Regions from separate parts of the Homo sapiens genome. Here region 2 is linked to region 1. Evidence: fine-mapped expression QTL. A gene starts in region 1. The other region holds a variant in brackets. All regions are shown on one strand. Distances are between the middles of the regions. Region 1 holds the start of RANBP9 (RAN binding protein 9). Region 2 has its middle 38 kb from the start of RANBP9.

Region 1 (2,794 bases):
ATTACCAGCTCCTTTCTACCCTGGGGCATTCTACTCACCTTCCTTTTCCAAGAATCTCGCCCCTCACCCTCGGACCCTTCACCGCGACCCCCGCGCCCACCCGGAGCAGCACAACAGGCGGCGAGTGGCCTCCGAGGGCAGAGCCCGCGAGGGCGGGGGTCGGGGGCGGGTCGAGAGCGGCGCAGCGGCGGCCGGCCACGTCGGGTCAGTGCCCCACTCCCACCGCAGGACACACGCCCAGTACCTTTGTAGTGCACCCGCAGGTTGTTCTGAGAGAGGCCGATGTAGCTGAACTTGTCCTTCGGGCTCCAGGACCGAGGCAGCGGCGTCTCTTGTTCGTCCACGGCCGGGTAGAGACGCTTCAGCCGCCGCTGCAACTCCTTCTCCTGCTCGTTCAGGGCCGAGTCCCCGTGAGGGAAGGGGGCCGCGGCGCTGCTGCCCGCCACCAGAGCTGGGGTCGGGGCTCCTCCAGCCGGGCCGGGGCCCGCTGCAAGGCCCGGGGGAGCGGGCGGCCCGCTGGCGGGGGCAGCCGCTGAGGCAGGGGGAGGCGGGGGCGGCGGCGGGGGCGGCGGGGCCGCGGTGGCCGGGGGCGGCGGCGGCGGAGGGTGGAGGAGCAGGGCGGCCGCCGCGGCCCCTAAGCCTTCGCCGCCCGCACCGCCGCCGGGCGAGCCGGCCGGAGAAGAGCCGGCGCTGACGGCCGGGGGCGCCGGCAGGACGACTCCGGAGACTGGGGCCAAGGCCGCCGGCGGTGGCGGCGACAGCTGCTGCTGCTGTTGCTGCTGCTGCGGCGGCGGCGGCGGCGGCTGCCCGGACATCCCGGCCGCGACTCAGCCTGCGGCCACCTCCACCTCTTCTCTCCTTCCTCCTCTGCTTCCCGGGGGCGCTGTCGCTGCGGCCGCCGGCACCAGGCGCCCAGTCCGCCCGCCCCGGAAGCAGGCGGCGGGCCGCGCGCCCAGGGAGACCGCGGCGGTTGAGGAGCTCGGAGACGCGGGAGTAGGCGGCGGGCCCGGGAGGCCGGGAGAGAACGTTGGCCGGAGCGCGGGCGCGCGGCCCGGGGACGAGGCGCCGAGGGCGGGGGCGACGCGGGAGCGCGGGAGGGGAAGGCGCGCTGGCGGCCGCCGCGGCCGCTGCTCTCGCGGCTGTTTCCCGGCGGGCGGGCCGGGCCGGCGCGAGACGCTGCGCGCGGGCGGCGCTAGGCGAGGGGGCGGGACGGAGGCGCGAGAGAGGCGCGAGCGGTGCGAGGGGGCGGGCCGCGGGGCTCCCGGCTGTGCGCCGCGAGGCGTCCTCCCGGGCCCGCCAGTCGCTCGTGGGCAGGATCGCTGGGCTCCCGGCGCCGCAGGTCCCTTCGGAGGTGTCCGCCTCCTCTCCCTTGGCGGCCGCCGTCGCCCCCCTCGCCGGCGAATCCCCTCCCACTTGACTTCTTTTTGTTGTCGTCGCCCCACCTCCCCACCGTAGGGCTCCTCGGAGCCGAGGCGCCGCTTCTCGTCCAGGCGAGAGTAATCGAGCCCCGCTGGGGCCGCCGCGAGCCCAGGCCCCGGGGCGCTCTAGGACCCGTCGGCCCGGGGCGTGCGGAGCGGCTCAGGCTCCCCGCGCAGTGCTGCTAGCTCTCGCCTCAGTCCCGTTCCCGTTTGCCGCCTCCCTCCAAAGAGGAACGCATTGCCTTTGGTACTTCAGTGTTTAATTCCGTAGCATTGACCATATGGGCAGTAGAAACCACTTCTGAAGGCAGTCTCCCACTTAGAATAGTGACTGTTTCATTAATTAATTTTACGAGGACTCACAGTGAACTTAACAGTGGTAGAAGATGTCATTAATAAAGACCGGCATATCTTCAAAAAGCAGGAGCAGGCACTGTATGAATACAAGATTATAGTGTGTGTTTAGGAAGGGCTTCTAGAGACGTCAGAACATTTTATAGACTCGTTAATTTTCATAACAGGGTTCTTAGGTAACAGAAAATTATGCCCATTTTTAAAACAAGGAAATATTTACCGAGATCAGCAGAGTCAAAAATAGGACTTCCTACTTTGCAATTCCCAATAGAATGCTTCGTCGACTAATTTGGCACAACTTGCCAAGTGTTGCTCTCTGACCCATCATAACATTACTACTTTGTTTTCACCACTTCCCTTTGTTTAGCTTATCCCTCCCTAGCTGGCAAAATCAGGCTTTGCATATGTAAATTGTGTGATGTAAATTCTGATATTTTGTTTGCTTCCAAAGATATGATGGTAATCATTTGGTCAAATAAGAAATGTTTTGCCGAAGAGAAAATTATTTCGTTTTGAAGAAGGTAGGCCAAAGGTGATTTAATTTAAGGCCAAGATTATCTGGCCAGAACAAATAACAGAGTCATTCGGCCTAATTTCTCCCTCAGTTACCCAGACAACTAGATGTTCTGTTGTACTTTTATTATTATTATTATTATTGTTTTGTCGCCCAGGCTGGAGTGCAGTTGTGTGGTCTCAGCTCACTACAACTTCCGCCTCCCGGGTTCAAGCGATTCTCCTGCCTCAGCCTCCCAAGTAGCTGGGACTACAGGCATGTGCTCACACCCAGCTAATTTTTGTACTTGTAGTGGAGACGGGGTTTCACCATGTTGGCCAGGCTGGTCTCGAACTCCCGACCTCAAGTGATCTACCCGCCTCAGCCTCCCAAAGTGCTGGGATTACAGGCGTGAGCCACCATGCCTGGCCTCTGTTGTAGTTTGATAGAAATATCCATTAATTTTAACCTGTTGTTTGATGACTTTTTTTAAACCACTGCACTTTGAATCACATGATGTCACTGTATT
Region 2 (2,794 bases), 38 kb after region 1:
GTAACCTCGAATCTGCTTTCTGTTGTCATAGATGATTTTCCCCTTTTCTGAAGTTTCATATAAATGGGATCATACATTATATACTCTTTGGTGTTTGCTCCTTTGATCTCACATAATGTTTTTGAAATAAAAATATATTGAGGGCTGGGCATGGTGGCTCACACCTGTAATCCCAGCATTTTGGGAGGCCAAGGCAGGCGGATCACCTGAAGTCAGGAGTTCGAGATCAGCCTGGCCAACATGGTGAAACCCCGTCTTTACTAAAAATACAAAAATTAGCTGGGCGTGGTGGTGCATGACTGTGATCCCAGCTACATGGGAGACTGAGGCAGGAGAATTGCTTGAGCCTGGGAGGCAGAGGTTGCAATGAGCGGAGATTGTGCCACTGCACCTCAGCCTGGGCAACAGAGTGAGACTCTGTCTCAAAAATAAATAAATAAATAAATAAAATAAACAAACAAAAATATATTCAATGTTTTGAATTTATTCAGGTTGTGTACATCAGTAGTTTATTCCTTTTTATTGCTGAGTAGTGTTCCATTATGTTGACATATATAGATACACCATCATTATCTATTTGCTTGCTAATAGATATTTTGGTTATTTTCTGTTTTGTTTTCACTATTATAAATAAAGCTGCTATAAGCATTTATGTACAAGTCTTCTTGTGGACATGTTTTCATTTGTCTTGGGTAAACAGCTAGGAGTGAAATTTCTGGGTCGTACGGTTATTGTAACCTTAGAAGAAACTGCCAAACTATTTTCCAAATTGGTTGTGCTGTTTTGTACATCTATCAGCAATGTTCATCCTGGCCAATACTTGGAACTGTCAGTTTAAAAAATCTTAGCCATTCTGGTGGCTGTGGAGTGGTATTTTCTTGTAGTTTTCATTTGCATTTCTCTGATAAATGAAAATGTGAAGCATTTTTCATGTACTTATTGGACAATTCTATATCTTCTTTTGTAAAATATTTGTTTATATCTTTTGCCCATAAAAAATTCGGGGTTTTGTCTTCTTACTGTTTATTTATAAAAGCTGTTTATATATTCTGGATAGAAGTCCTTTGTCAGTCCTTTCTGACTTATATGAAGATTAGAAGTTAAAAATTTGATGGAGTTCAATTTCTCAATGTCTTCTTTTCATGCCTTTGTGTCCCATCTAAGGAATCTGCCTAACCCAAACTTGTGAAGATTTTTTCCTATTTTTTCTTATAGCAGTGTTATAATTTTAGCCTGTAGAAGTAGGTCTTTGATTATTTCAAGTTAATTTTTGCATATGGTGTGAAGTAAAAGTTAAGGCTCATGTTTTTTCATATGGATATCCAGTTTTTCCAGCATGTTGTTGAAAAGATACCCTTTGCTCATTGAATTACCTTGGCACTTCTGTCTAAAGTCAATTGACTATATATGTGAGGATCTACTTCTGAACTCTCTGTTCCATTAATCTATTTGTCTGTTCTTACACTAATATTATATTAGCTTAATTACTGTAGCTTTATAGTTAGTATTGAATTCAGTTAGTGTAATTCCTCCACCTTCATTCTTCTTTTTAAAAAAAATTCTTGGCCGGGCGCAGTGGCTCACGCCTGTAATCCCAGCACTTTGGGAAGCCAAGGTGGGCAGATCATCTGAGGCTGGGAGTTCAAGACCAGCCTGACCAACATGGAGAAACCCCGTCTCTACTAAAAATACAAAATTAGCCAGGCGTGGTGGCGCATGCCTGTAATCCCA[C/G]CTACTTGGGAGGCTAAGGCAGGAGAATTGCTTGAACCCAGGAGGCGGAGGTTGTGGTGAGCCGAGATCATGCCATTGCACTCCGGCCTGGGCAAGAAGAGCAAAACTCCATCTCAAAAAAAAAAAAAAAAGAAGAAGAAGTAGTAGTCTTGGCTTTTCTATGTCTTTTGCAATTGCACAGAGATTTTAGCGTGAACTTATCAACTTCTTTTTAATAATATGCTTAGATTTTGATAGAGATTGCACTGAATCTATTGTCAATACTTTTTTCATTAAAAAATGTCATTCAGGGTTTGCTGGCTTTCATGCATGATGGCTTATTTCCTTGTATGTTCTGAGATATTTTTATTGTGAGCTCATATTCCTTGGAAATCTATCTCTTATAATTTGTTGAGGCCTGGATTTAAAATCTGTTTTCCAGAGAAGATTTGTATATATATTTCCCAGGCATAATTTACTACCTTGGCCTACTCTAAACAAAAATTGAAACACAAATTTTAAACAAAAATGGCTTATCCTTTTGTTGTTTTAGAATGATGGTGTCCATTTCTAATAATTATTTTTTCCAGTTTTCCCATGGATATATGGGTGGGGAAGATTGACCAGTTTATGTCACTATATATGTGTAAAATGAAGAAGTTAAAATCGTGTATTTTCTTCATGTAAGGTTAACCACTTGGCAGAGAATTGGATTAGACCAACTCAGAGAGGACAATCCTAATGAACTAAAATGGGAATTTCTCTAGAATGATAGAGCAACTGAACTAATTTCCTTCATTATGAAATTGGAGTCAATCAGCAAAAGATTTATTTGAATCCATCTTTACTACAAATTAACCATACAAATGTAAAAATAGATAAGTAGATTCACGATAGTCACTGCTGATGGTGTGTGGAGGTGTGTTTCTGTGTGGCAGTGTTAGACCAGGAGTGTGTAAAGGTGCAGAGAGGGGCTTAACAGTGTTCACAAGTTGCAGGGGCAACAGAAATGAGCAGGAAAATGCAGGTCCACCTGTAGGAATTTTACCTGCATCTATCTGCCCTCTCCAATTTCTTTTTCTTT

Evidence for each region. PIP is the estimated chance that this variant, and not a neighbour inherited with it, causes the effect. A credible set is the group of variants that fine-mapping cannot tell apart.
Region 2: its variant is the best candidate, but not a certain one, in a credible set for the expression of RANBP9 in whole blood (TOPMed, PIP 0.75).

What each region holds. Positions count from the first base shown.
Region 1 is chr6:13,710,691-13,713,484 of GRCh38, forward strand. RANBP9 (RAN binding protein 9) reads right to left here and starts at 1,145. Exons shown (of 14, transcript NM_005493.3): 1 at 245-1,145. The coding sequence starts at 815. LOC124901264 (a long non-coding RNA gene) reads right to left here and starts at 2,064. Exons shown (of 2, transcript XR_007059462.1): 1 at 1,993-2,064; 2 at 1,662-1,851. RefSeq lists silencers at 90-209, 470-519, 600-719, 880-1,649.
Region 2 is chr6:13,748,898-13,751,691 of GRCh38, forward strand. No RefSeq gene overlaps it. Among named protein-coding and RNA genes, the nearest start is that of RANBP9, 38 kb to the left of the region's middle. The variant C/G (reference allele first, on the strand shown) is at 1,732.